Regions from separate parts of the Homo sapiens genome. Here region 1 is linked to region 2. The links come from fine-mapping of genetic effects on gene expression. A gene starts in region 2. The other region holds a variant in brackets. All regions are shown on one strand. Distances are from middle to middle. Region 1 overlaps NBPF1 (NBPF member 1). Region 2 holds the start of SPATA21 (spermatogenesis associated 21).

Evidence for each region.
Region 1: its variant is fine-mapped to the expression of SPATA21 in cerebellar hemisphere (GTEx, PIP 0.97).

What each region holds. Positions count from the first base shown.
Region 1 is chr1:16,582,732-16,598,212 of GRCh38, forward strand. NBPF1 (NBPF member 1) reads right to left here. Exons shown (of 18, transcript NM_001405701.2): 3 at 12,200-12,282; 4 at 11,861-11,930; 5 at 10,710-11,022; 6 at 9,428-9,582; 7 at 9,116-9,325; 8 at 863-965. The coding sequence starts at 9,290. Among named protein-coding and RNA genes, the nearest start is that of NBPF1, 23 kb to the right of the region's middle. RefSeq lists an enhancer at 7,325-7,824 and a silencer at 9,152-9,341. The variant G/T (reference allele first, on the strand shown) is at 7,310.
Region 2 is chr1:16,430,342-16,445,822 of GRCh38, forward strand. SPATA21 (spermatogenesis associated 21) reads right to left here and starts at 7,083. Exons shown (of 13, transcript NM_198546.1): 1 at 6,787-7,083; 2 at 2,449-2,583; 3 at 997-1,081. The coding sequence starts at 1,030. NECAP2 (NECAP endocytosis associated 2) reads left to right here and starts at 10,383. Exons shown (of 8, transcript NM_018090.5): 1 at 10,383-10,512; 2 at 13,291-13,391. The coding sequence starts at 10,421. RefSeq lists a silencer at 7,813-7,983.

The sequences.
Region 1 (15,481 bases), 150 kb after region 2:
TGAGAGTGAACCAGGACTTTATATTGCCTAAGGTGAGACGGTAGAGAAAATTTAAGAGTGGAAAGGGTTGAGTGATCCGTTCAAATATTGCAACAGAGATTTCTGAGACAATGTCCTCAAGGAGACCTCCAAGCAGAAGGTCAGCACATGTTGAAAGGAATGACTGTGGCCAAGAGAAATAATAGAAAATGGTTTACAGGCTTCCTCTGTATCAGAGAGGGCTCCTGCAAGATCCTCGATGATGTTCCATTCATCTTTCCCTTCTGTAAACAAAAGTAGGTGTCTTCCTAATTCCGTTTCAAAAAGACATCCTTTCAGTTCCTCACTCTGGCCATGGACATTTCCATGTGAAAATACACATAGTGCAACTTGCAGCCACTAGATACAAAGCCATGTACAGAAATGAGGCCAGGTGCAGATGGGGCGAATTGAAAAGACGAAAGAAGAAAAGAATGACAGGGTCAAGAAGGCAACATTGATTGAGTGAAAGAATGAGAAGACGCAGTCAGTCAGAAGGTGGTTCTCACTAAGGGTAAGTGGGGTGGTGATGGCACACCATTTTGAGTATACTGAGTGCTGCTGTGTGGTTCACACTCCTTTGGTTAATTTTGTGTTATGTAAATTTCACATCAACAATTACTTGTTTGAAAAAGAGAAAACAAGGCTCTAAGAAACAACTGCAACCCATAAATTTTTATTATCCTTCTTCTCTGCTTGATAAATACTTGTGTGTTGCGAGCCTGCCATGGCAATTCCTGCCCTTCCCCTGGCCCAGCTTAGCTCTTACGTCTCCCCACCGAGCTGCTGTACTTCAGAGATTTACACAGCTGCTCCCCCACCTGCCCCCATGGGGTCCCCTCACCTGAGCTCCTCAGCTTGCTTGAGCTGCTCTGCAAGCTTCTCCTCCTTGAACTGTCGCTCATTCCTCAGCATAGATTTTATGAGGTCTTTGCACTCTTCATATTCTGAGAAAAGACAGACACGCCTGCCTCAGTGGAAGGCTGGACATGCTGCTGTGGTCATTGCCTACAGGGCAGGAGCCAGGTCCATCCCAAGGACAAAACTCTCCCCAGTACCAGGGTCTAGACAGGGATTTCCACATCTTTACTCTTCAGTCTCCTGACTTTCTGGCATCTGATCCTCCAAAATTTAGAGATGAAGAAAGGGAACCTCAAGGGCACATCAAGGAAGTTGACAAGATGATTCAACCACAACGAAGTGGAGTCAGAATTCACAGCCCCTGAGGTCTGACTCTGAATGCAGGGCCACTTTCCCAAGACTTGCAGCCTCTCCTCTAAAACACTGCACTGGGGCATGAAGTAGTGATTTCTTGTACAGTCGGGAAGGCCCCTAGGACTATGGGACTGACGGTTTCCCTTTTACTGGGAATTTCAAAGACAAGTATGCGAAAGATTTTAAAAATCTTTGATTTTTAAATCATATCTTCAGTTATGATTTTAAGAATCATATCTGAAGCATAAAGTGTGACACATAACACCATAAGGTCATGAAGGAAATATGCCCAAATGCTAATAAAGTTTGTGTTAATTTAGAAACAGCAGAATGAAGAACTAATAGATAGTGTTTACTGTGTGCCAATAAATGTTCTAGGAGATTGACAAGAAATAGCTCATGTAATTCACTGCAGCAATTTACAGAGGTAGGTATTATTGTAGTACCCTCTGAACAGGTGAGGAAACTGAGGGACAGACAAGACAAGCAACTTGGATGGAGCCCAGGAGACAGGCCCACGGTCTCTGCTCTGTACACTGCACTGCTACCTCCACACATTCTCAGGTGCGATCTTTCTTCCTCTTTAGGAACAAGACTCTGTGCCCCAGGAAGCAGGACTTCACTCTCACCAAGCTACACTCTGCTTCTTATTCTTATTTTTATTTATCATTATTATTATTATTATTATTATTATTATTTTTACCAGTCTTGCCCTGTCACCCAGAGTGGAGTGCAATGGCAAAATCTTGGCTCACTGCAACCTCAGCCTCCTGGGTTCAAAGGATTCTCCTGCCTCAGCCTCCTGAGCAGGGGTGATTACAGTCACCTGCCACCATGCCCATCTACTTTTTGTATTTTTAGTGGAGATGGGGTTTCTCCATGTTGCCCAGGCTGGTCTCAAACTCCTGACCTTGTGATCTGCCCGCCTCAGCCTCCCAAAGGGCTGGGATTACAGGAGTGAGCCACCATGCACAGCCCCTACTCCCTGCTCTTGATGCTGTCACTTATAGATAGCACAGGTTCTATTAGGAGCAGACTCCTCTTGAAGCCCCTCAGAGCGGGTACTGGCTACTATCACCAAGTTTCCCTCAGAGTCACTAGAACAGAGCTGTGCCTGTTGGGCCTCAACAGAAACTTGAACTGAATAAAAGTTCACTAGTCTCAGACATTTAGAACAACAGACTAGATGTTATTTGTCTGCAGGATCTTACATGGTACAGAGAGGATTCTTGGAAACATGATTGAGCCTCTTGGAGAAAACAGGTCATTCTGTGCCTGTGTCAGAAATCAATAAATGGCAGTTTAACTCTAGTCCCACCCCCACCTGATTGCAAACATGGAAAGTTGCTAAATACTTTGGTACCTCTCTCTTCCAACTTTAACAAAATGTTAAAATACCCATTTCTGTTTTCCTAGAAGTATGGGGAGGATGACATTATTTTAGATGGAGAGAGCACTTAGTTTCTCAGAGAGAAGACAGGACTTCGTTCATCACTTTCGTGATGGTGAGCCTATAGATCTTACTGTATTTGTTCTGCTGGTTGGCCAGGAAGCAGGCCAGTTGAGTTACAAAACATTTCTCTTTGAGGTTTCTGAACTGCTGTTTCTTCTCTGCCAGCTGGGGATGCAATTTCTCGTTGATTTCTAGAATGTTCATCTCTGCCTTCTCGCTGGACAAAGGGCCGGCTGATACCACCATGCTGACGTTTGTGGCAGAAGAGGTGGGGCCAGGGACTGGGGAGAAGAAAGGCAAACACATGATGGGTTAAAAACTGGTGAAATCAAATAGGTTTAATCACACTGAGGGATGTCAGTGGCAGCCTTGTCTACTTATTTGAAAATGTTGTTTCCCTGGTTTCACTCTTGTCATCTCCAGTCTTGATCTCCTTTAAGTCAACTTGTCTTAGCTATGCAGTCACCTTGAAACCAGGACATAAACACTTCTACACTTTTCTTGCTTATAAGTTTCTATAAAGCAAGGCTGGGCCCTGAGATTTTTACCCCATGAGTGGCCAATGTTTCTGTGTAGCACAAAAGATTGCATTTTCCTTTTTCGATATTTTTCTCTTTTGGTTTTTTGTTTTTTGTTTGAGACGGAGTCTCACTCTGTCACGCAGGCTGCAGTGCAGTGGCGCAATCTCAGCTCACTGCCACCTCTGCCTCCCGGGTTCAAGTGATTCTCATCCCTCAGCCTGCCAAACATCTGGGATTACAAGCGCCAAGTAACATGCCAGCTAATTTTTGCATTTTTAGTAGAGATTGGGTTTCGCCATCTTGGACAGGCTGGTTTCGAACTCCTGACCTCAGGTGTTCCGCCCACCTTGGCCTCCCAAAGTGCTGGGATTAAGATGTGAGCCAGCACCCCCGGTCAGAGACTTTTTTTTTTTTTTTTTTTGAGATGGAGTCTCGCTCTGTCTCCCAGGCTGGAGTGCAGTGGCACAATCTAGGCTCACTGCAAGCTCCGGTTCCTGGGTTCATGCCATTCTCCTGCCACAGCCTCCCGAGTAGCTGGGACTACAGGCGCCCAACACCGTGCCCAGCTAATTTTTTTTTTTTGTATTTTTAGTAACGACGGGGTTTCACCGTGTTAGCCAGGATGGTCTCGATCTCCTGACCTCGTGATCCACCCGCCCCGGCCTCCCAAAGTGCTGGGATTACATGTGTGAGCCACCGCGCCCGGCCGAGACTTCTTATTAATAGCTAAGACAAGCCAATGAAAAGGAGAGAGAGTCTAGCCTGAGAGGAGTGAACCAGGGTGGGAGGATCGTCTCAGCCGATCCTCCCACCTAAGTCTCCTGAGCAGTTGGGACTAGAGGCACGCAGCACCATGCCTGCCTAATTTTTTGTATTCTTTGTAAAGATGGGTTTCACCATATTGTCCAGGCTGGTCTTCAACTCCTGAACTCAAGTCATCCTCCCACTTGGGCCTTCCAAAGTGCTGTGATTATATGTGTGAGTCACAGAACCTAGCTCCATCCTAGTTTCTGACTAAAAGAATAACAATATGTGTATATACAGCCTGTCCTCAGAATTGATCTTCCATAGCCTAGACAGAGGTATGAGACACAAGGAAAATAGAGGCTACCTGGGAGAATGTTTACAGCATCCTGACATTCATCATGAGAGGATTCTCTGTCTACAACCAGAGTTGAGTTGACTTTGTCTTCCTCAAAGGTGATGTTGATGTTCTTGTGAGGCTGGTTGGAGTCACAAGGGCTGTGGCTATTTGAACAAGTGATGGCACATTCCTCCAGTGAGTCCTCAGGGACTTTGCTTTCTTCAGCCTTCTGCACCTCCCTGATGAGCCAGGTGGGACAGAGATGACAGAAGATTAAACACAGAGGGATTGGACCCCAGGGAGTCCTAGCTGGTTTTGACAGGCGGCATTAAGACAGTGGTCCCAGAAAGCAAAATGGAGGTTCCCTTTAAGGGGGAACAGGCAATCCTCTTCTCTCTGCAACAGAGCATGGCTGCCATGGGAGCCAGAGAGGAAGAGAGCAGCTGGTGTTCAGTGCACTGGACAGATAGGAGCTGAGGAGGATGAAGACTCAGCTATCCCTGTATGGTACAGACATGACACTTGGCACACATAGAGAAACACGACAGCTGCCGCACCCTGTGTCTAAGCTGGGTTGAATTTCACATACTGTGGCCAAGCGAATGCGGGCTTTTGGCCCATCATAGATGCCAGAGAGGGTGTGCCTCCTACACATTTTCATATGTTACCACCCATTACTTGCTCCCGAGTATTCAGTGTTACCTGGGGGCAGATGATTCCAGTACTTTCTCAGCCTCCTCAACTTGAACATCTTCATCCTCATCTTCGTCATTTTCTGTAAATACAAAATGTTCGTTCAGATATTTCCCACTTCACATTCTGCAAGCACAGTCAGCCCAATGTGCACAGAGACATGAACATCTATGTATGGTTCAGCACTGTACTGAAAACTGTCATATTTTATCTTTCACAAAATGCCCTGGCATGGTTTCCTGGTCCATCGGGCAATGCATTTCTGATCTGGAGGGCCACCATCAAGATGTGGTCAAATATTGAAAAGACCTTTTGCTTCCCATATCACTGGAGGCTTGTGCAGCCTCTCTCTGGACTTTGGCAGCTGTCGCCCCCATCCTGCCACATATCTGATTCCCAGGAACAGGCTTGGTGTCCTGTCACAGTTCGCATTTCAAACCTCATTCTTTCTCTTAGGAGAGGACAAACTTGTCCCACAGTCCTCTATGCATCATGAGACTGCACAGGCCCTCCATGTGGCTTCTGCTGTGTTATTCAGGGACATTCTATCCACGGGGAGTGCTCCAGTCTGAAGCACTTCCTACCACCAAATGCCCCTACACCAAGTGCCTTCTCCAACACCAAACGGAGAGGGGCTTCATCTCATTTTAAAAAGCATTCGTAAGTGTTCCCATATTTGGATGCTTCAGACCCTTGCAAGAGACAATTTGTTTGCCTTTGCAGATGGAGAGAGAGAAACTCTGGAAAGATAAATCACTCACTCACCGACAGTTACTAAGAACATTGTCAAAAAGACAGCCTGGGAACCTTCATTCTTAGCCCAGAGCTCTTTTCACTCCAACAAGCGCCCTCCCATCACAGCCTCCTTCCTGTCCTTTAAAACTAGACAGATGCTGCCTCTTGCTCCAAAGACCACCTTCCATCAAGGAAGGAGGGACACTTGCAATACTGTGACCTCCAACCCCATGGGTTTCCCATCTCTGTTCTTACCCAGGAAGTCCTGGTCATGTCATGGCCACATATGTATAGCAGAAAAAAACCCCACTGATACAACTGTCATTGTGAAAGTATGGAGGTCTGGAGCCTCTCATAAGCCTGGGGTTTTGGGTCATCAGGGCCTATGGCCACCTTACCTGGGCTGAGCTTCTGGAAAAGTTGCTGTGCCAGTCTACACCCCTCAGCCAGCTGTTCTTGGAGGTCCTGCCCCTGGGACTTGTCTGGCTTATCCGGAGTGAGGAGGGCCTGGAGATGCTGATTCAATGAGCGGGAGGCATCTCTCCCTTCCCGTAACTTCTCCCTTAACTGGGTCAGCTCTCGTTCCTGAGAGTGAACCAGGACTTTATATTGCCTAAGGTGAGACGGTAGAGAAAATTTAAGAGTGGAAAGGGTTGAGTGATCCGTTCAAATATTGCAACAGAGATTTCTGAGACAATGTCCTCAAGGAGACCTCCAAGCAGAAGGTCAGCACATGTTGAAAGGAATGACTGTGGCCAAGAGAAAGAATAGAAAATGGTTTACAGGCTTCCTCTGTATCAGAGAGGGCTCCTGCAAGATCCTCGATGATGTTCCATTCATCTTTCCCTTCTGTAAACAAAAGTAGGTGTCTTCCTAATTCCGTTTCAAAAAGACATCCTTTCAGTTCCTCACTCTGGCCATGGACATTTCCATGTGAAAATACACATAGTGCATCTTGCGGCCACTAGATACAAAGCCATGTACAGAAATGAGGCCAGGTGCAGATGGGGCGAATTGAAAAGACGAAAGAAGAAAAGAATGACAGGGTCGAGAAGGCAACATTGATTGAGTGAAAGAATGAGAAGACGCAGTCAGTCAGAAGGTGATTCTCACTAAGGGTAAGTGGGGTGGCGATGGCACACCATTTTGAGTATACTGAATGCTGCTGTGTGGTTCACACTCCTTTGGTTAATTTTGTGTTATGTAAATTTCACATCAACAATTACTTGTTTGAAAAAGAGAAAACAAGGCTCTAAGAAACAACTGCAACCCATAAATTTTTATTATCCTTCTTCTCTGCTTGATAAATACTTGTGTGTTGCGAGCCTGCCATGGCAATTCCTGCCCTTCCCCTGGCCCAGCTTAGCTCTTACGTCTCCCCACCGAGCTGCTGTACTTCAGAGATTTACACAGCTGCTCCCCTGCCTGCCCCCATGGGGTCCCCTCACCTGAGCTCCTCAGCTTGCTTGAGCTGCTCTGCAAGCTTCTCCTCCTTGAACTGTCGCTCATTCCTCAGCATAAATTTTATGAGGTCTTTACACTCTTCATACTCTGAGAAAAGACAGACACGCCTGCCTCAGTGGAAGGCTG[G/T]ACATGCTGCTGTGGTCACTGCCTACAGGGCAGAAGCCAGGTCCATCCCAAGGACAAAACTGTCCCCCGTACCAGGCTCTAGGCAGGGATTTCCACATCTTTACTCTTCAGTCTCCTGACTTTCTGGCATCTTATCCTCCAAAATTTAAAGACGAAGAAAGAGAAATTCAAGGCACATCAAGGAAGTTGACAAGATGATTCAACCACAACGAAGTGGAGTCAGAACTCACAGCCCCTGAGGTCTGACTCTGAATGCGGGGCCACTTTCCCAAGACTTGCAGCCTCTCCTCTGAAACACTGCACTGGGGCATGAAGTAGTGATTTCTTGTACAGTTGGGAAGGCCCCTAGGACTATGGGACTGACGGTTTCCCTTTTACTGGGAATTTCAAAGACAAGTATGCGAAAGATTTTAAAAATCTTTGATTTTTAAATCATATCTTCAGTTATGATTTTAAGAATCATATCTGAAGCATAAAGTGTGACACATAACACCATAAGGCCATGAAGGAAATATGCCCAAATATTTTATTAGTATGACAGGCAGCATCAAGATTTAGATTAGTTGTGTTAATTTAGAAACAGCATAAGATTAGTTTGTGTTAATTTAGAAACATCAGAATGAAGAACTAATAGATAGTGTTTACACTGTGCCAATTAATGTTCAAGGAGATTGACAGGAAATACCTCATGTAATTCATTGCAGCAATTTACAGAGGTAGGTATTATTGTAGTACCCTCTGAACAGATGAGGAAACTGAGGGACAGACAAGACAAGCAACTTGGATGGAGCCCAGGAGACAGGCTGAGGGTCCCTGCTTTGCACACTGCACTGCTGCTTCCACACATTCTCGGGTGTGATCTTTCTTCCTCTTTAGGAACAAGAGCCTGTGCACCAGGAAGCAGGACTTCACTCTCACCAAGGTACTCTCTGCTTTTTATTTTTATTTTTGTTTTATTTATCTTTTTGTTTGTTTGTTTTTTGATGAGTCTTGCCCTGTCACCCATGCTGGAGTGCAATAGTGCAATCTTGGCTCACTGCAACATCTGCCTGCTGGGTTCAAAGGATTCTTCTGCCTCAGCCTCCCGATTAGTGGTGATTACAGTTGCCCGCCACGACGCCCATCTACTTTTTGTATTTTTAGTGGAGATGGGGTTTCTCCATGTTGCCCAGGCTAGTCTCAAACTCCTCACCTCGTGCTCTGCCCGCCTCAGCCTCCCAAAGTGCTGAGATTACAGGAGTGAGCCACGTTGCACGGCCCCTACTCCCTGCTCTTGATGCTGTCACTTATAGATAGCACAGGTTCTATTAGGAGCAGACTCCTCTTGAAGCCCCTCAGAGCAGGTACTGGCTACTATCACCAAGTTTCCCTCAGAGTCACTAGAACAGAGCCTTGCCTGTTGGGCCTCAACAGAAACTTGAACTGAATAAAAGTTCACTAGTCTCAGACATTTAGAACAACAGACTAGATGTTATTTGTCTGCAGGATCTTATATGGTACAGAGAGGATTCTTGAAAACATGATTGAGCCTCTTGGAGAAAACAGGTCGTTCTGTGTCTGTGTTAGAAATCAATAACTGTGAGTTTAACTCTAGTCCCACCCCCACCTGATTGCAAACATGGAAAGTTGCTAAATACTTTGGTACCTCTGTCTTCCAACTTTAACAAAATGTTAAAATACCCATTTCTGTTTTCCTAGAAGTACAGGAAGGATGAAATTATTTTTGATGGAGAGAGCATTTAGTGTCTCAGAGAGAAGACAGGACATCATTCATCACTTTCATGATGGTGAGCCTATAGATCTTACTGTATTTCTTCTGTCGGTTGGCCAGGAAGCCGGCCAGTTGAGTTACAAAACATTTCTCTTTGAGGTTTCTGAACTGCTGTTTGTTCTCTGCCAGCTGGGGGCGCAATTTCTCGTTGATTTCTAAAATGTTCGTCTCTGCCTTCTCGCTGGACCAAGGGCCAGCTGATACCACCATGCTGACGTTTGTGGCAGAAGAGGTGGAGCCAGGGACTGGGGAGAAGAAACCCAAACATATGATGGGTTAAAAACTGGTGAAATCAAATAGGTTTAATCAGGACTGAGGGATGTCAGTAACTGAAATTCTTAACTTACTGTTGTGAAAAATGTGATCACTCCCCACAGCACTTTAGGATCCTTCACCACAAAAACAAGGTTCGAGGTGCCTGAACTCAGAGCTGAAAGCACTGCCAGTAGCTCAGACTCTGATAAGAGTGAGGTAGACTGTGGCCAGCGTGCCAGGTAACCGTCTGCAGTTGCAATAACAGAATTAGAAGGTGGGGGTGTCATGGAATCTTAGGAGCCCTGCATTCCAATTGCCCAGGCTTTCCTGAAACACAGGCACCCTAGTCTCACCTGAGGGTCACCACCAATGGGGATCATTCCTTCAGCATTCACTCTCAGTATTCGTGTACCCTTGTGATGATGCCACAGACCCGTGTCTTTCCCAATACATCTAAGCATATTCCTCACTGTTTATCTCTTGTCTGTACAACATCATCAAGGCAGAAACAGTTTCCCAACAGGTTGTATTTTCTTAATGGTAGTCATGAAGTCACCCCACCTGCTCTCAGTTAAAACAGAGCTTAAGGCCTTTCCACAGGTGTAAGATATCAAACTTTTAGCCTGCCCTGATTTCCTCTGGGTCTTCTGCAGTTTTGTCTGTATCCACTAGAAAGTGAATGAATAATTCATTTGTAAAAAATGTTGTCTTTCCTGTCTCAGTATTCTTCTTGCTGTTTCCCATTGTTATGTTGATTTCTTTTTTCTCACTGGGGCACCATCTTTGCTTTTCATTACACTCTAGACCAGTTTGACATCCCTATGTCCAGAGCTCTTCCTCTATGTGGGTTGATTTGGTTTTTGATGTCACTGAGCGCTACATTTTATACTTGTCACTTATGGATGTCATTCTAGTGTCACAAGAGCTCTTTTCAAGGTATCAAGTGATCAAAATCATTTATATAGAGATCTCCTGAAAACATGTGTGACCATCTATCTTGGGAAGTTTCATAAACCTGATGCTATTTTGTTGTTTCCATTTTGTTTTCCCATATACTGAAAAGAACAGGGCCATGAGCGGTTCTTATGCAATATGGTTTGATATATATTTTGTTGAGATGACCTAACACCATTGATTTTGGGTTGCATTCCACTAACAGAACATGGCAAGATCAAGGTTATGGTCACGGTTGGTTGGTGATCCTCAGTGTTGCAGTAGAAGGTGAGTTTGAGATGAGAGGAATGAGTAGGAAAGAGTGATCCCCTGAACCACCTCCTCGCTTTCTCAGCTTTCACCCCACCTAGGTTTTGTGAGCCTGGAACTTGGGAGACTGTTCTGTAGCCCAGGTCTCCTAAGATTGGCTGCTGGACTTGCCTGAGTTGAGGGTGCGGTGGGTTGACCCTGGGCTGCCCAGCATTCATGTGGTAGTGAAGGAAGGAGGACTGGATCAATCCCATTTCAAAGCATGTCTCTCTGCACTCCACACTGTCCTCCAATGACACTGTAAGGAAACCGCTTTAAGACGTATCAACGGCTTTAAGTAAATGTATTTTCTGGCATCTGGGAGACCTGACATTCTGTGTCATAATGAAAATCTGTCATGTTTCTTTATTTTAAAAATGATAAAACTGCAGGTTCACAGAGTTACATGGCTTACTTGAGGTCACACGGGGATGAGTTTTCAGCACTGCCAATAAAAGCAATCACATGAATTATTCAGTAATTATTCATAGGATCCATATAATTCAGTAAATATTCACATAATTATTTACTAGTTGTTCATTGACCAATTCGTACAAGGCATTTTGCTCAAAACTGTGTTTATATTTGGACATTGTATCTTCATCATAATCCTGTGGTAATGCTGTTATCCGTAAGTAACAGGTAAGAAACCTGAAGAGGAGGGATAGCAAATCATGTATTTGGACATATTTCCTTTTTTTTTTTTTGGTTTTTGTGATGCTGGAAGAATGACCAGAATGAGTCATAGGAAGAGTATACATTCCTGTAGTATTTTCCAGGACAGAGGTGTGACCTCCTAGAGTACTGGGACCAAAATTCCCAAGTGTCTGCAACCTTGCTTTAACAGTATGGGAGATCACCTCTATCACCTGGAATTCCCCTGGAACTCTGGAATATACAAGAGAAGTATGAGACTTGGGTCTTCCCTTGGCTGTGTTTAATTCACTCTTCTATGGAATACCAATGATTCTCACTAAGACTGGCCTTTTCATAAGCACAATGTGCATTTTATGGAGAAGATTTTACACTTTGCTCTATTTAGAAAGAATAAATATGAGCAGTGGTTTAGGTTTTATGCCCTGGACTTAATATGTTTCTGATTCCTGTTTTGAGATTAAATTCTCATGTAAATAGAAAAATACTTATTATTTCTCATAAGGCCAAGTTTGTTATTAGTTTGAGTTTTTGAAGATGAAGCACAAACTTTTGATTTTATCTTTGTCTGTCTCTGTCAGCGCCACTCGTTGTCTCTCAGTATGACCTGGACTTGCCCCTGCACTTACCCTTGTCCTGCTGAACCATCTCCATGCACTGTCCAATTCCATCAGTGATTCGGGCTCCTTCCAAGGCTCCCTGAAAAGGGCACAGAGATCAGGACATTAGGCACATTCCGGACACAAAGGCAACCCATACTGTAGAGTGGGCAGCTGTGTTTCCACTTCCCTAATATTCCAGTGATGTCCTCAAACTGAAAGGAACACTTTCCCTTTTTAGGGGTCTGTTCTTCATGTCTCAGTGCCTCTGATCTAGTCAACACAACTGTCCTGAATGTGAAAGAACTTGCTAAATTTCTAGTTTCTTGTTAGGTGGCTAAAATAGATTTATAAGACTTCCTTACTTACCCATGACTGCTGAAGTTTGAATTCTTAGCAGTACGATTCGTTTTCTTGTAAGGTGAGCAGCTTAGGAAAGATTGGCCATCTTCCTGTGCAAAAAGAGGCAAACTTAATTTCTACTCAAAGCATGCTTGAATTTGGAATCAGGGCTTCCACTCTTCCGAAGTTGGAGTGTCACTGCGACAGGCATGTGTCCCGAAGGGCTCGTGTCTCTGCTATACTCAAAGTTTAAATGGAGCCCAGCAAGCCAGATGTCCTTTACTTCTAGGTTCCCTCAACAGTTTCTCCTCCGCTTTAGAGACCGCATTGAAAATATTCTTGTTCTGCTGTTGTGTTTTGGCTTTGGAATGATGTGATGCAGCTCAATGGGTCCCACCCCCAACTTGATCAAAGTAAGAAACAGCTGGGAAAGTCAGTGCAAATACAAGTTCATTGTCCTCCTTGCAGGGATTCTGATTCAGAGGGCTCAGGTGGGGCCTGGAATGTTTGTTAACATGACTCAGATGTGCAGTCAATTTGGGGACTCACTGACAGCATTGACCTTACAGTTTATGGGATGATTCTTTCTGTTTGGTGATGAAGAAACTGAGGCACACAGAGTCTGTAACTTGCCCAAGTTCCCCTTGTTGTAAGTCCTGGAGCCAGATCTCAGGTGGACCAGTGCTTCTCTCCCCTATACCTCATTTCTGAGAAAAGGAAATCTTCTGCAATTTGACTTCTTTCATCTAACACATTTCCTCACAACATGCAGCCAGCATCATATTTTGGCCACTTACTATTAAAGTGAGATGCTTTTTTTTTTTTTTTTTTGAGACAGGGTCTTATTCTGTCACCCAGGGTGGAGTGCACTGGTGATTATAGATCACGGCAATCTTGAACTTCTGGGCTCAAGCGATCCTCCTGCCTCAGCTTTCCAAGTAGTTGGAACTATAGGCACACATCACCATTTCTGGCTAATTTTATATTTTTCATAGAGACAAGGTCTTGCTATGTTGCTCAGGCTGGTTTTGAACTTCTGGCCTCAAGCGATCCTCCCACCTAGGCCTCCAAAAGTGCTGGGATTACAGAAGTTAGCCACTGAACCTGGCCCTGAAATGCTTTTATTTCTTTCTTTTTTTTAATGAAAATACTGGACATGGAGATGTGGAAAGACACCTTGCTTTATTACTTTTGTTGTTATTATTATTTCTACAGTAGAATTTATACATCACAAAATTCACCATTTTTAAGCATACATTTCAGTGTCTTTTACCATATTCCAAAACTTTCGCAACCATCGCCACTACCTAATTCCAGAATATTTTCATAATGCCAAAAAGCATGCCTGTACCTATGGGCAGACACTCTCCAATTCCCCCCTTCTTGCGCTCTCTGACAACCACTAATCTACCTTCTCTATATATTGATGTACTTGTTCTGGGCACTTCCTCTATATGGAATAACAAAGTGTGGTATTTTCTATCTGCTTCTTAGAATATTGTTCTCAAGTTTCATCCTTTCTAGCCTGCGTCAGTACTTCAACTTTTTATGGCCAGATAATATTCCACTATATGGTTATACCACATTTTGTTTATTCATCAACTCATGGTGGTTTAAGATGTTTCCACTTTTTAACTATTAGGAATAATGCTGCTGTGAACAGCTTTGTACAGGTTTTTGAGTGAACATCTGTTTTTCATTTTCTTGGTTATAAACCTAGGAGTGCAATTGCTGCATCATATGTCACTTTATGTTTCACTTTTTGAGGAACTCACACACTGTTTACTAACTTCAGTAGCTATATCATTTTAGATTCCCAATAGTAATATATGAGAATTCCATATTCTCCATCACTTTTGAAACATGTGTTGTCTTTATTTTTTTCTTAAGTCATACTGCTGGGTGTGAAGTGGTATCTCATTTTGGTTTAAATTTACATTTTCCTAATGACGAAAAACATTGAACATCTTTGCATGTGCTTCTTGGCCATTTGTGTGTTTCCTTTAGAGAAACCTCTACTCACAGCTTTTTTTCCCCATTGTTAAATGTGGTTGTCGTTTATTGCTCAGTTATATGAATTCCTTATACACTCTAGGTACTAGACCTGTGTCAAACATACAATTTGGAAATAGTTCTCCCATTATGTGGATTATCTTTTCACTTCCTTGACAGTGTCCTTTGAAGCATACAAGTTTTTTATTTTAATGAAGTCCATTTATCTATTTTTCGGTTGTTTGTGCCTACTTAAAAAATGTCTAATCCAAAATCACAAAGATTTGTACCTAGGTTTCCTTCAAGACATCGTCTTTTGAATGAGAACTTTCCTGGGTTTTAGAGGAGGGTGGACATTGTTTATTGATGCCTCCTGTCCATTACCGATGTTTCTCTTGATTGTTATTCATATGCTCACCACCCCTCCATGGAGCATCCATGGCCTGTGACAGAGCTCTGGGGACTGATATCCTTCCACTGACTTTGGCGCTGGTGAGAGCCCTGGTCATGTGATTCAGCTTGGCCTTAACCCGACCCAGTTGCACATATTCCTCAGGCCCTTTAGAGTTGAAGTCGAGACCTCTCTGAGAACGCTTGCCAGCCCATGCTCTTCTAAGGCTGGAGCAAACTTCCTCCATCTATTCCAGACAGAGGGGACTGCAGGGGTTGGACTCACTCAAGATATCTCTGGTGTTAGAAAGAAGACCTGTTTCAGGCTTTGGGGAAGATTGTTCAATATGAACTAGGTCCTCTCTAATTATTTTTACCGTATGTGTGACTTCTTTCTAGAAACAAGGGAAGAATATTTATGTTAGAACATTTTGTCTATTCTTTGTCAATTGTTGTTTATCTACAATTTTAACATGGATAAAGGAGAGTTCAGTGTCAATATATTCTTAACAACTAATTACGGCTCATGTCCACCGCCATGCGATCATATTTAAATCTGTCAACTATCCTGTTACTTAGGTATTATCCTGTTCCTGATGAGAAAACAAACTCAGAAAGATTGCAAAATTTCCCTAGGTCACAAAACTAGTGAGGAGAGGAGTAAGAATTAGATATCCGTTCCTTTTGGCCTTCAAAGCTAACCTTGTACCATTAGATCAAACTGATTTACATACTTTTGCTGGAATTAGTCTCAGACTTGTGGTTCTCACTTGATTTTCCCAAGGAAACAGTGTGCCACTTTAATATCATTTCAAACTTTGAAATTTAAAACTCTTTTTATTATACTTTTTTGTCTTTGTTCTATTCCGTTGCTTTTGGTTTCTTCTCAACGGATCCCTCTTATTTATATGCTAAATATTTGTTACC
Region 2 (15,481 bases):
AGGATCGCTTAAGCCTGGGAGTTCGAGGCTGCAGTGAGTCGTGATCGCACCACTGCACTCCAGTCTGGGTGAGAGAGTGAGAGCCTGTCTCAAAAATAAACAAACAAACAAACTAATAAACATATTTGATGGAAAGAGGCTGAGAGGTGTGATGGAAGCTTAGGATGCAGGCTGGGCTCTGGGGAGGGGCATGGAGGGAAGCCCTGAGTAGCTCTCAGGAGAATAAAGCTGGGCTGGAGGCTGTGAGGGGAGTTTGGAGGCCATGCAAGGCACCTAGAAGAGCGAGTAGGCAATTCTGGGTTTGCTCACCCTGCAGCTCTTTCCGTTACAGAAGCCAGCATTGTTTTTGGGAAGCTTCTCTTCTCCATTCAGCCCATGGGGCTCAGTGGAGCCACCTATCACCTCTGTCTCCATTGTATCAAGAGATCCAGACCACTCCCCACTGCCATGGTGATTGGTTCAAGGATGAGCATCTGACCACAATCTGGGCCAATGACAGTGATGCTAGAGACTTGTTTCAACTATTGCAAAGAGGCTCACTTCCTGTTGGAATGCTAAACCAGAGGGTGTAAGATGGGAAGATGTAATCCTGGAGTGGCCAGGGCAATCCCTGCCATCTTGCAGGGAGAGCTTGCCTGAGAATGAATCCAACACGGAGGAACATAGAGCCAAGAGATACTCATTTAGCACATTGATCTAGCCATACCTGAAGTCTATGAAGGCATGTGTCAGTTACCCAAACTGATATATTCTCTTTTCTGCTTAATCCAGTTTGAATTGGGTTTTGTGTCCATTTTTAACAGAGTCTTAATTAAAGCAGCTGGGGAGGAAGCCTGGGCAGGGGAAGGGAAAGGTGCCAGCTAGGAGTGAATGGATCAGAACATGGGGTGCAGGTCCCTACCTTGCTGACTCCTGGTATGATGGGCTCAACACCAGCCCTCTTTATGGTGATCCTCAGGCCAGGACTTGGCTGCGTCCCTGGAGCCTTGGTTCTACCCTCCGTGTACATCTGGGTGTTTCTATTGTCCATGATGCCAGCGCCAACACGGGTGCCAAGTGAGGGGCATCACCTAGTGTGCTCCTACAGGAGAAATCCAATCAAGCGTCCCACCAAGCCCATCACCTAACTGCTGCTTCAGGAGCCCACTTGGAGCCTATAATGTAGACAGCCTGGCTCGAGGGAAGAGGCGGGGCCAGGCCTTGCAAGGAGAGGCACGCAGCAAAACCAGAGAGCTAGCCACATGCCATTTACCCATACGCTTTTCCTAGTTCTCACTATGACCCTGAGGAAAAGGGGCTCTGGAAGGCACAAGACTTGCCCAAGATCTAACACCTGCTAGGTCGCAGACGAGGATTTGAACCATGGCCTGTTGAATCCCAAAACCCAGGCGCTTTCCCCGACGGCGACATTTCCTACAGGGTATTCTTTGGCATACTGGTCCCTTCAGATGCTCCAAGGGGTTCCAAGGCTAAATGCCTTTGGAAAGTGCTGTGATGAGCGAAATGATACAGGCTCTTTCCTGTACAACTTCTCAGAGCCTTTAAAATACTAATGTGCCTTTTAAAGAGAGTCCAAGAATGTCACAGCTGCTCCTGCTATAGATGAAAACTCCATGTTCTTAGATGGGGCTAAGGAACAAGAACTAGGGACATCTGTCCATCTGTCTCAGGGCCCCAAAGTCTCCAGCGGCAATCTGCAGTTCACCAAAGCACCCACACCCTGCCCTGGACACATCCTTTCTTTTTCTTTTTCTTTTCTTCTTCTTCTTCTTCTTTTTTTTTTTTTTTTGTTTGTTTTGAGACAGAGTCTCGCTCTGTTGCCCAGGCTGGAGTGCAGTGCTGCAATCTTGGCTCACTGCAACCTCTGCCTCCTGGGCTCAAGCAATTCTCCTGCCTCAGCCTCCCTACTAGCTGGGATTTTAGGCGGCCGCCACCATGCCCGGCTAATTTTTGTATTTTTAGTAGAGATGGGGTTTCACCAGGTTGGCCACGCTGGTCTTGAACTCCTGACCTCAAGTGATCCGCCCGCCTCGGCCTCCCAAAGTGTTGGGATTACAGGTGTGAGCCACTGCACCTGGCCATTTCTGAAGCCTTTCATCTCTCCTCCACCTCTTTCATCCAACCTCATGTTCAGCTGTGCCACCACCCCCTACACAAACTTTCTGTTTTAATCCAGGCAGGCTCCTGCAATCCTAGTCCCACAGACCCCAGCCTCTGTGCCCACCTCCCATTTTTTCTATCTTTCCGATAGCCCCCAACCCATCCTTCAAGCTCCTCCCTCTTCTCCAAGTTTCCAACCATCTCAGCTCTCTCTCCAGCCACTGAATTCCTTTGAGGCAACATCAGCACCATTTCTATGGGTACATGGACCCCCTTTCACTGTTAACTAGTTTCCAGGAGTAAATCCTAACCCCCATGCCCCTTCCTCCTGTAGTGAGACCATATGACCTTGAAGATCTTGATGGTGCTTCTTCCACTTTAAATCATGGCAGGCCCGCCAGCATCCACGGAGGAACCTTCCATGTGCTGGAAACCTTTGTAAACAGTATTCTCCTAACAGCCCTGTGAAGTCTGGGTTCAGCCCTGTTTTAAAGATAGGGAAATTAAGGCTCTGAGCAATGTTTTGTCCGATACCACATGGCCAGTCTGCAGAGGAACTGGATTCAAACCCAGGCCTGTCTGACTCCCATGGCCACTCATCTCATCATATCATTTTGCCTACAAAGAAGCTTAAGTCATTCATTCATTTCCTTGTGCAATCGATAACTGTTTAATGACACGTGCCCGTGCTAGGGACAACGTCAGGCCTTAGGGGATACACTGGGTGTCCTGACGGTTCCCACAGTTTACCAGGGACACAGAGGAGGCGCACTTAATAGCTGCTGACCCAAGTTCGCACTTCCTTTTCCTGCCCTCCAGGCCCTTCCTGCAGTTACAGCTGCACCCCTGCCATGCAAAGCAGACCTCAGCTGGTTTGGTGGGGTGACCTCCCACCCCTGGTGCAGCTCTGGCCTCACGAAGGACCAGGCTGTCACCTGGAGCGGAAAAGTCAGGGCTGTGGCCAAGTCCTTCTCTCTTGCCTTGGAGTTCCTTGCCCCTCCCCAGCCTCTTTCTCATTAGGGTTCCCCTAGCCATTCCCGCTTCCTCTGAGTCTTCCTGTCTCAGGGGTGGATGAACCACCTAGGGAAAATCTCCCCCTACGCCCCTCAAACACACCCCCTATTGTCCACTGTCTCTGCCTGAGAATGTGCAGGCTCAGCCTTGGAATTGTCAGGCCCCAGTATTCCACAAACTGAAGTTTTACGGAGGCAGAAGCCCCAGAGGGGCTCCAGCCCCTATCTGTCCACATCTGGAGCTTGCTAACTCTGAGAATCTAGACAAGGAGGGGAAGCCCCAGCCCTAGCAGAGGGGCTTGGAATCCAAGGGTAGAACTGGGAGAGAAGTTGACAAATATCGACTATGTCACCCTTTCAGATCACTTGGGACCCTTTTTTGTTTACAGCTTTATTGAAATTTAACTCACATACCATACAGTTCACCCATTTAAAGTGTACAATTCAACGGCTTTTAGGATATTCACAGAGTTGTACCACCCTCGCCCTAATTCTAGAATATTTTTATCACCCCAAAAAGAAACCCCACACCCCTTGGGCATCATCCCCAATCTTCCCACCCCAAACCCAGCCCTAGGTAACCACTAATCTACTTTCTGTCTTAGTGGATTTGTCTATTCCGAACATTCCATATAAATGGAATCATACAATATATGGTCCTTGGTGAGTAGCTTCTTTCACTTAACGTCATGTTTTCAAGGTTCATCCATGTTGTAGCACACATCAGAATTTCATTCCTTTTTATGGCTGAGTAATATTTCACTGTATGGCTAGACCCCATTTTGTTTATCCATTCATCAGTAGATAGAAATTGAGGTTGTTTCTTTTTTCTTTCTTTTTTTTTTTTTTGAGACAGAGTTTTGCTCTGTCACTCAGGCTGGAGTGCAGCAGTGCGATCGTAGCTTACTATAGCCTCAAACTCCTGGGCTCAAGGGATCCTCTCCCCTCAGCCTCTGAGTGGCTGGCTGGGACTACAGACGCATGCCACCATGCCTGGTTCGTCTTAAAAATTTTTTAATTTTAAATAGAGGCGAGGTCTCATTAGGTTGCCCAGGCTGCTCAAAGTCCTGAGCTTAAGTGATCCTCCCACCTTGGCCTCCCAAAGTGCTGAGATTACAGGTGTGAGCCACCATGCCTGGCCCGTTTCCACATTTTACCTATTATGAATAACACTGCTATGAACATTCATGTACAAGTTTTTATATGAACATACATTTGCATTTCTCTTGGTTATGTATATAGGAACGGAATTGCTGAATCACATGTCAACTCTATTTTTAGCTTTTGAGTAATTGCCAGACTTTCTCAAAGTGGCTGTATCATTTTACCTTCTTACCAGCAGCATATGACTGCTCCAATTTTTCTGCATCCTCTCCAACACTTGTTATTATCTGTCTTATTTATTTATTTATTTATTTTTTGAGACAGGGTCTTCCTTTATCACCCAGGATGGAGTGCAGTGGTATGACCATAGCTCACTGCAACCTCCAACTCTGGGGTTCAAGGGATCCTCCCACCTTAGCCTCCTGAGTAGCTGAGACTACAAGTGCACACCACCACACCTGGCTAATTTTCAAATATTTTGTAGATGGGAATCTCACTATGTTGTCCAGGCTGGTCTTGAACTCCTCAGCTCAAGGGATCCTCCCGCCTCAGCCTCCCAGTGTTTTGGGATTACAGGTGTGAGCCACTGTACCGCCTTACTTGTCTTTTTTATCATAGCTATCCTAGTGGATGTGAGTGTAAAGTGTTATCTCATTCTGATTTTGATTTGCATTTCCCCAATGGCCGATAATGTTGGACATCTTCATGTGCTTATTGGCCATTTGTCTATCTTCTTTGGAAAAATGTTTATTCAGAGCCTTCGTCCTTTTTTTTTTGAGATGGAGTCTCGCTCTGTCACCCAGGGTGGAGTGCAGTGGCCTAGTTCCAGCTCACTGCAACCTCCGTCTCCCGTGTCCATGCAATTCTCCTGCTTCAGCCTCCCTAGTAGCTGGGATTACAGGTGTGTGCCACCACACCAGACTAATTTTTGTATTTTTAGTAGAGACGCGGTTTTGCCATCTTGACCAGGCTGGTCTCAAACCCCTGACCTCAGGTGATCTGCCCACCTCAGCCTTCCAAAGTACTGGGATTACAGGTGTGAGCCACCATGCCCGGCCCCCCCCTTTTTTTTTTTTCAGACAGGGTCTTACTCTGTCCACAGGCTGGACTGCAGTGGCATGAACGTGGCTCACTATAGCCTTGACCTCTTGGGCTCAGGTGATCCTCCCATTTCAGCCTCCCAAAATGCTGGGATTACATGCATGAGTCACAGCACCCAGCCTGCCTCTGTCCATTTATACTGGGTTGTCTTTTTATTATTGCACGGTAAATGTTCTTTATAAATTCTAGATACATGTCCTGAATCATATATATGATCTGCAAAAATTTTCTCCCATTATGTGGATTACATTTTCACCTTTTTGTCTTTTGAAGCACAGAAGTTTTAAATTTTTGTAAAAGTCCCATTTATCGGCCTGGTGCGGTGGCTCACACCTGTAATCCCAGCACTCTGGGAGGCTGAGGCGGGCGGATCATGAGGTCAGGAGTTTGAGACCAGCCTGGCCAGCAAGGTGAAACCCCATCTCTACTAAAGATACAAAAAATTAGCTGAGTGTGGTGGTGCGTGCCTGTAATCCCAGCACTTTGGGAGGCCGAGGCGGGCAGATCACCTGAGGTTGGGAGTTTGAGACCAGCCTGACCAACATGGAGAAACCCCGTCTCTACTAAAAGTACAGAATTAGCCGGGCATGGTGGCACATGCCTGTAATCCCAGCTAGTCAGGAGGCTGAGGCAGGAGAATTGCTTGAACCTGGCAGGTGGAGGGTTGCAGTGAGCCGAGATCGCACCATTGCACTCCAGCCTAGATGACAGGGTGAGACTCTGTCTCAAAAAAAAAAAAAAAAAATACAGATAGGGTGCAGTGTATACTGCTCAGGTGATGGGTGGACCAAAATCTTACAAATCACCACTAAAGAACCTACTCATGCAGGGCAAGGTGGCTCACGCCTGTAATCCCAGAACTTTGGGATGCCAAGGGGGGCAGATCACTCGAGGTCAGGAGTTTGAGATCACCCTGGCTAACATGGTGAAATCCTGTTTCTACTAAAAATACAAAAATTAGCTGGGCATGGTGGTGCCTGCCTGTAATCCTAGGTACTTGGGAGGCTGAGGCAGGAGAATCGCTTGAACCTGGGAGATGGAGGTTGCAGTGAGCAGAGACTGCACCACTACACGCCAGCCTGGGCAACAGAGCAAGACTCCGTCTCAAAAAAAATTACTAATGTAAACAAAAAAAAAACACCAAAAAACAAAAACCTTAGTCATGTAGCCAAATACCACCTGTACCCCAATAACCTATGGAAAAACAAATAAATAAATAAATAAATAAAAAGTTTTGAAATCAGGAAGTGTGAGTCCTCCAACTTTGTTCTTTTTCAAAATTCTTTGGGTATTGAGTGCCCCTTTTATAAGTGGTTTCCTCATCTGAAAAATGGGAGAATTTCTCTTGGAAATATCTATGATGGCAGGAAAATACAGCAGATAAAGATAAGTGGCATATCATATATATGTCTGGAGGCCGTCAGGGAAAGCTTGTTCACCTTACACCCCACCTTGGCCCTGCACCTACCAGAAATCAGCTGGATGAGTCACAGTGAGATTTTCCACCCCTGCTCACCGCCTTGCACATAGGATGGGCTCTGTCTGAGCCTATACTTTGCCTGTTGGCTTGAATTGGATTTGTTTGGTATACAGGGCAGTTAAACTGGGAATAGATGGCAGGTCCAATTATTCTCAGCAGCAGAGGTTTAGGAATGCATTTCAGGAATATCCAGCCATGTGGTTAGGGTTTGAGAATAAGGCAAGGGGCTGTGTGACCTCCAACTACTGGACAGTGTCATTTCCCCCAGCTTGTCACTGGTTCAGTGGCCCCCATTACACAATGAAGATAACAATCGTTGCCTTGCCAACCTCACAGTGATTATTGGGCCAGGGTACTCTCTCCCAGAAAGCCTTCCCTGACTCTCCCCAGACTGTGTGGGGTTTCTTCTCTTTGCTCCCACAGGCCCCTGTGAATTTGCTTCATTACAGTACCTTTCATTCTGCTTTGCCAATGACTGCTTTTCTCTCTGTCTCCTCCAGTCTGCGAGCTCCAGGATGGTAGGAGCTGGATTGGCCACATCCCAGTGACCCCAGTACTCAGCACCTGGCATAGGGTATGTGCTCGATGCCTGTCTTTGTTAGACTGAACAGAACTGAAAGTGCTCTGAATGGCTGGGTGCGGTGGCTCACACCTGTAATCCCAGCACTTTGGGAGGCCGAGGTGGGTGGATCACTTGAGGTCGAGTTATAGACCAGCCTGGCCAACATGGTGAAACCCCGTCTCTACTAAAAATACAAAAATTAGCCAGGCATGGTGGCGCATGCCTGTAATCCCAGCTACTTAGGAGGCTGAGGCACGAGAATCACTTGAACCTGGGAGGCAGAAGTTGCAGTGAGCTGAGATCATGCCACTGTCTTCCAGCCTGGGTGGTAGAGTGAGACTTAGTCTCAAAAAAAAAAAAATTGGAAAATAAGGCCAGGTATGGTGGCTCATGCCTATAATCCTAGCACTTTGGAAGGCTGAGGCAGGAGGATCTCTTGAAGACAGGAATTCAAGACCAGCCTGGGCAACATAGCAAGACCCCCGTCTCTACAAAAAGTAAGAAAAATAGCAGGGTAGGGTGGTGTGTGCCTGTAGGCCCAGCTACTCAAAAGGTTGAGGCAGGAGGATCCCTTGAGCCCGGGAATTTGAGGCTGCAGTGAGTGATGATCGCACCATTGCACTCCAGTGTGGGGTGACAGAGAGAGAAAGAAAGAGAGAGACCCTGTCTAAAAAAAAAAAAAAAAAGAAAAGAAAAAGAAAAGAAAAGAAAAGAAAAATAACCAATATTTGCAAAAATGTGAAGAAATTGAAACCCTTGTGAACGTAAATGGTGCTGCTGCTGTGGAAGACAGTTTGGAGGCTCCTCAAAAAGGTGAGCAAGGCCGGACATGGTGGTTCACACCTGTAGTCCCAGCTACTTGGGAGGCTGAGTTGGGAGGATCACTTGAGCCTGGGAGGTTGAGGCTGCAGTGAGCCATGATCATGCCAGTGCTTTCCAGCCTGGGCAACAGAGTGAGATGCTGTTTCAAACAAAACAAAACAAAACAAAACCACTAAACATAGCATTATTGTATAACTCAGCAGTTTCACTCCTATGTATACACTCAAGAAAATGGAAAACAGGACTAGAACAAGTGTTTGAACACCAATGCTCATAGTAGCCCGATTCCCAATACCAAAAGGTGATAACATCCCAATTGTTGACAGATGAATGGATAAACAAAATATGGTATATACATGCAATGGAATATTATCCCTCCATTAAAAGGAATGAAATTCTGATCCATGCTACATGAAAGAACCTTGAAAACTTGATGCTAAGTGAAATAAGAAACACAAAAGCCCAATATTGTATGATTCCACTTATAAGAGGTATCTAGAAAAGGCAAATTCATAGAGACAGAAAGTAAAACAGAGGTTACTAAGGGATGGAGCAGAAGGAAATGGGAAGTTATTGCTAATGGGTGTGGAGTTTCTGTTTGGGATGATGAAAAGTTCTGGAAAGCATGATATAGTTGCACAATATTGTGAATGTACTTAATTTCACAGCATTGTACACTTAAAATGGTAAATTTTATGTTATGTATATTTTACAATAAAAATGTAAGTGGTTAGATCAATCCTATAATAAAAAGCTTATAAAAAATGAGTAGAAATGGCCAGTCGTGGTGGCTCACGCCTGTAATCCCAGCACTTGGGAGGCCGAAGTGGGCGGATCACTTGAGGTCAGGAGTTCAAGATCAGCTTGGCCAACCAGATGAAACCCCCGTCTCTACCAAAAAAATACAAAAACTAGCCAGGCTTGGTGGTGGGTGCCTGTAATCCCAGCTACTCGGGAGGCTGAGGCAGGAGAATCGCTTGAACCCGGGAGGTGGAGGTTGCAGTGAGCCGAGATTGCACCACTGCACTCCAGCCTGGGCGGCAGAGTGAGACTTTGTCTGAAGAAAAAAAAAAAAAAAAGTAAAAAGGAGAAGGAGAGTGAGAGAGAAAAGGAAAGAAGGGGTGGGGAAAGTTTGGGGTATTCAGTGAATCAGAAGTTTGGGATCAGCTTCACCCCCACATAGGGGCTGGCACATTGCAGGCACTCAACTCAATGAGAGAATGGTAGGGAAGGAGGGATTTTGAGAATTTGGCTAGGGTAGACATTGTATCTCCCAGAATATTCTGGGAGAAATCGAAGTTAAGACTGGAATTCTTCTTCTTCTTTTTTTTTTTTTTTGAGACAGAGTCCCGCTCTGTCACCCAGGCTGAGGTGCAGTGGCACAATTTCAGCTCACTGCAACTTCCGCATTCCGGGTTCAAGCGATTCTAGTGCCTCAGTCTCCCAACTAGCTAGGACTACAGACACACGCCACCAAGCCCGGCTAATTTTTGTATTTTTAGTAGAGACGGGGTTTCACCATGTTGGCCAGGCTGGTCTCGAACTCCTGACCTCAGGTGATCCGCCCGCCTCAGCCTCCCAAAGTGCTGGGATTACAGGCGTGAGCTACCAAGCCCGGCCTGGAATTCTTCTTAAATTACTTGTGTTACTAAACTTTACTTCTTTGAATACAACTCGTTGTTGAGGTTTGGCCACACGGGGCCCTGAGCATATAAGTGGGTTCCCCTAGGGGAAGCATGGAGGGTGGTAGGGTAATGGCATCTATTTAGTCTGGTGGGTCAGGTGCCAGCTGAGCCTTACAGTCAGGAGAGGGAAGGATATTCAGGCAGAGGAGGCGCCGAGGCAAAGGCTGGAGGACAGAGATACTGCAGGGTGGGCTACAGCTTTGCCTCTCGGTCAACTGGGCCCCAGGCCTAAGAAACTGAAGCGATGGGGATGATCCACACCCAGACCACGGGTTACAGAGGGGTCTGTCCATGGCGGGCGCAGGGCGCTTTCTTTGCGTCGGAGGGTGTCTGGAGGGAAGGAGAAGCCTCTGGAGGGAGGGAGAAGCCTCCGGAGGTCGCCCGCCACGTGTCTTGAGCCGGGTTTCCAGCAGAGGGCGCACAAACGAGGCGGTGCTGAGGCCCGCGAGCTGCCGCTCTAGCCGAAACCTGGTCAGAGAGTCGCACCGCTTCCGTCCGTCGGACAGAGGAACGGTGGAAGTCGCCGGAAGTTCGGTGGGCTCCAGGCGTCGCGATGGAGGAGAGCGGGTACGAGTCGGTGCTCTGTGTCAAGCCTGACGTCCACGTCTACCGCATCCCTCCGCGGGCTACCAACCGTGGCTACAGGTGACTACCCACCGCCAGACCAGGCTAGCTCCAATTTAACCCTTTCTCCGCCACCCGGACACACCCACTGCGGGAACCGAGGACAGCCCTGGCCAGTTTTGGGGCGAGGGGGAGCTAATGCTGCTGCTTCTTCCAGTTCCAGGCCCGAGCAGGGAGGTGGATCCAGAGTTTCGCCCGTCTCAGTTCGACGCACGGGACTCCTGGCGGCGGGGAGGGCGTTAAAGCCGTATCTAGCGCTTAGGGACCCCGGTGGGCTGCCGGGTACCCTAAACTTGGTCGGGGGTGGTGATGTCACAGACGCTTCTCTTTCAGCGCTAACCGGTGGCCTTGAAGGGATCCTCGAAAAGCCTTAAGCGGGGAGGTGCCCTATCACAGACGGAAATCCCCGAGAGGAGGGGAGGGAGCCCAGAGCCGGCTGAAAGGACCGGTCCCGGGGAGCTTTAAGGTGACGGTCGAAGCCCAGGGACCCCTTCCTACCCAGATCCCTTCGCACGAATTTCACCCTTGATCACAGCCTGGAGCAGTTGGGAGGACCCCTTCTATATTTCTCTGGTCTCTACCTGAGACGAATAAACACACACGCTTGTAAACATACTGAGTATCTCTGCAAAGGAACACAGGAAACTGCCCTAGGGGAGGGGAACCGCCCTTGGAAGGAAACTTCCTTTCCCTTTTGTGCTGTTTGCGTTTTACTACTCTTTGTATGCGTTATCTATCAAAACGACGAAAAATATTAAAAGAAAAAAGATACACTTCATACAGACAACCTGGCCTATGGCTATTTTGTGCCACTGAGTGGTGGTGGGGAGTGCTCGTATTTGCGGGGGCCTGGGTGGCTCTTGAAGGCGATGGTTGTCCAAGTTTTTCGGAAATACAGGATTGGTCTGCACCCCAAGAATGATGGAACGTCCACATTTCCTCTTGTTACTTTCCAGTTGTGTTACCGTGGGCTCATAGCTGATCTTATGGTGAAAAGATGCGTTAGTGAACATTACATTCATGACATATTTTAAAATAGTATAAAAACAAAAACAACAATAACCAAAATACATTTGTTTTCTGTCATCAAACTGTGGTTGGACCATCAAACCATTGATGGTCGTCTAGCCCCATCTCCTGTTGGGTCTTTTTTTTTTTTTTTTGAGACAGAGTTTCCCTCTTGTTGTCCAGGCTAGAGTGCAATGGTGCGATCTCGGCTCACTGCAACCTCCGCCTCCCGGATTCAAGCGATTCTCCTGCCTCAGCCTCCCGAGTAGCTGGGATTACAGCCATACACCACCACACCCGACTAATTTTGTGTTTTTAGTAGAGATGAGATTTCTCCATGTTGGTCAGGCTGGTCTCGAACTCCCTACCTCAGGTGGTCCACTCGCCTCGGCCTCCCAAAGTGCTGGGATTACAGGCAGGATCCACCGCGCCCGGCCCCCTATTGGGTCTTTAGTAGGATGGATTTGGTTCCTCTTGGTGCCCCAGAGAGCGAGGTTATGAATTGTCAGGGCTGGCTGGTTTAGCTTAGAGGAAACTACCAGTGCCTGCACTTAAGTCTTGGAGCTCTCCTTAGCCTGAATCTCAGGCCTGGTAAGAGGAACAGGAACTGAGTCTGCTGATTTGTGAATTGAGAATCTGCATTTGTGCAGCCCTCAAGACAGCCGCGTCCAGGGTTCTTGAGAACTGGCATAGGGACTTCTAAGAAAAGCCTCCTGGAAACACCTGCGGTTCTTGCTATTTGGGGATTTAACTGACCTTTTCTTAGAACTAAAATGTGAAGTTAATGCTTTAAAAGAGTCAAAACAGCTGGCTGTGGTGGCTCACGCCTGTAATCCCAACACTTTGGGAAGCCTCGGTGGAAGGATCCCTTGAGCCCAAGACTTCAGGACCAGCCTGGGCAACATAGACCCTATCTCTATAATTTTTTTTAATTGGCCTGGTGTGTTGGTACACACCTGTAGTCCCAGCTACTCAGGAGGCTGAGGTGGGAGGATCTCTTGAGCTCAGGAGGTTGAGGCTTCAGTGAGCCGTAGTTGCGCCACTGCACTTCAGCCCGGGTGACAGAGTGAGACCCCGTCTCAAACAAATTAGAGCCAAAAGAGGCATTGCTGTAGGTTCATGGTTTCCTGGGTTTCTTCCTAAGGACCCATTCACTTTTCTCACATGTACTGTTGTTCTCCTTTTCTCTTCTGGTGATTGTTCCATGCTGTCTTTTTCTTTCAAGATAGTCTCACTGGTCTCAAATGGTCGCTCTGACTGCTGCAGTCAAGCAGTGTCAGAAACAGAATCAGGCCCCTGCAGCTGCTGCTTCTATAGAAAGGAAACTGGAAGGAAGTCCTACGTGGAGGAGGACACTGTGGTCTAGAGAGGGGGTCACCAAGTGACAACCCAGTGTGTTTTTGTATGGTTCACACCTAAGAATAGTTTTTACATTTTTTAAATGGTTTGGAAAATTTTTAAAGGAGAGTATTTCATACTGGGAACATTACATGAATTTCAGATTTCAGTGTCTACACTTTGATTGAAATACAGCTGTGCTCAGTAGAAAATAGTTAAGATACCTAAAGCATCACCACGTGCATGTTCTATACTGATTTTACCCTACAGCAGCCGAGCTGCCTTGTTGTGACAGGCTGTGTGGCCTGTAGAGCCAAAGATATTTACTGTCTGACTCTTTACAGAAAATGTTTGCCAACTCTTGGGCTAGAATAAGCAGCCCTTTCCATTCCCAGCATTGGGGTCACACAGCAGGAGCCTCTGGCAGAGATTCAGTGGTGTTTGTCCCCTTAGGGCTGCGGAGTGGCAGCTGGACCAGCCATCATGGAGTGGCCGGCTGAGGATCACTGCAAAGGGACAGATGGCCTACATCAAGCTGGAGGACAGGACGTCAGGTAACCGGAAGGGAGGCTGCATCAAGCTGAGGGGCCGCACCCCACTTTATGAAGGGAGAGGTGGCCTGGTCTGGCCAGGCTGCTCAGGGGTCATGGGAACCTGTCCTGAAAAATCAGAGACGTGTGTGTACCTTTAAGCTGTACCATTCCCCCACCTTAGTTGTAGAAAGTACCGTCTCCAGGTGTAAAAATGAGTATTTCATGTCAAACACTAGTTCCTTTTAGGAGTCCTCAGGAAAATGTGGGGGCCAAGGAGAGGAGACCGCAGCTTGGTCCTGGTAGGAAGTAGGAAGCCCTGGAAGTGGCCTTGAAGACAGGCGGGTGAGGATGCACAGCCCTCTGCCGCTGGGCTCTGCTTCCTACTGAGGAATTGTTTATCAATGCAGCGGTAACTCCCAGAGCTGACCACACCCATTAACCGAAGAAGCTGGAAACTGTCCTACTCAGCTCTTTCTGTAGTGAGAGGACGAGCTGAGCTGGGTTGTGTTGGGGTCAGCTGGCAGAGATCGTCTTGGGGGAAACTTCACAAGTCCTGGGCCACCTGTGCCTCTGGGTGAGCTGTGGAGGGCAGTGCACCTGGAATCCCCCAGCCGAGACCCCTAGTGGGGTCGGACACAGTGTCTGCTCAGTCAGGTGCCACAACATTCGGTCATTTATTTTTTCTAATATGTAGAGATTTTCCTTTGTAGAGCAGAAGAGAAAGTGCAAAAGTTTAGAGAGAGAACTGGCTGCCTCTTCTCAGAACTATGTTCTGCCTGAGCTGCTGGATGTGGGGTGAGCCACATGACCTCTGGGGCCTTGGCCTCCTCCTTGTTGAAATGGGGATCATATTAGTTCCTCCTTCATAAGATTGTTGGAGAATAGGAAGTGAGCAGATATTTCTGTAATGCTTTACGGACTGCGAGGCAACCCAAAGCATTGATGTGTTCTTCGGGAACTTGGGTACTGGCGGCAGAGGAGTTTGGAGAGGCAGCTGCCATGGCCAGACCAGAGACTTTAAGCTGGAGAATTGCTGGGACACCCCAGGTAGTGTCATAAGAGAATGGTAACACCTCGTTCTCTGAGGAATTTGGTAACTGCGACTTTATTTTAAAAAATCATTTGTTTTTAGATGGAGTCTTGCTCTGTCACCCAGGCTGGAGTGCAGTGGCACGATCTCAGCTCACCACAACCTCTGCCTCACAGGTTCAAGCAATTCTCTGCCTCAGCCTCTCGGGTAGCTGGGATTACAGGCGCCCCCCCACCACGCCCAGCTAATTTTTTTTGTACTTTTAGTAGAGACGGGGTTTCACCATATTGGCCAGGCTGTTCTTGAACTCCTGACCTCGTGATCCGCCCACCTCGGCCTCCCAAAGTGTTGGGATTACAGGTGTGAGCCACTGTGCCCAGCCAGCTGTGACTTTAACATGACTCCCTAACGTAACAGGCACTGCCTAGGGCTGAGCCTCCCCTGTGGGACCCACCCCAAGGTGCTCTTAGCTCAAGGTCATGCCTGGGTCATGTTAGACTCTTACTTTCCCATGAGGTAATGAGCATATCACTCTAGGCCAGGCTTTCTCAGCTTCAGCACTGTTGACACCTGGGGCCAGATGAGTCTTTGTTTTGGAGAGCTGTGGAGCCCAGTGAGGACATTTCACAGCATTCTTGGCCTATGTCTAGCAGATGCCAGTAGCACCCCCCAAGTTGTGACAATCAAAATTATCTCTAGACATTGCCAGATGTCCTCTTGGGGACAGGGGAGCAAAATCACCCCTGATTGAGAACTACTGCTGTAGGCTGAAGGAATCTTGGTGAGGTTGGAACACAAGGCAGATAAATTGACAAGAAACCACAGACTCTAGGGCTGTTGGTTTTGAATCAGTTCAGCCTTGATTACAAAATTACCTCTTGCCTGGGCATGGTAGCTCATGCCTGTAATCCTAGCACTTTAGGAGGCCAAGACAGGTGGATCGCTTGAGCCCAGGAATTCCAGAGCAGCCTGGGCAATATGGCAAAACCCTGTCTCTAATAAAAATACAAAAATTAGCCAGGCGTGGTGGTGCACACCTGTGATCCCAGCTACTTGGGAGGCTGAGGCACAAGAATCACTT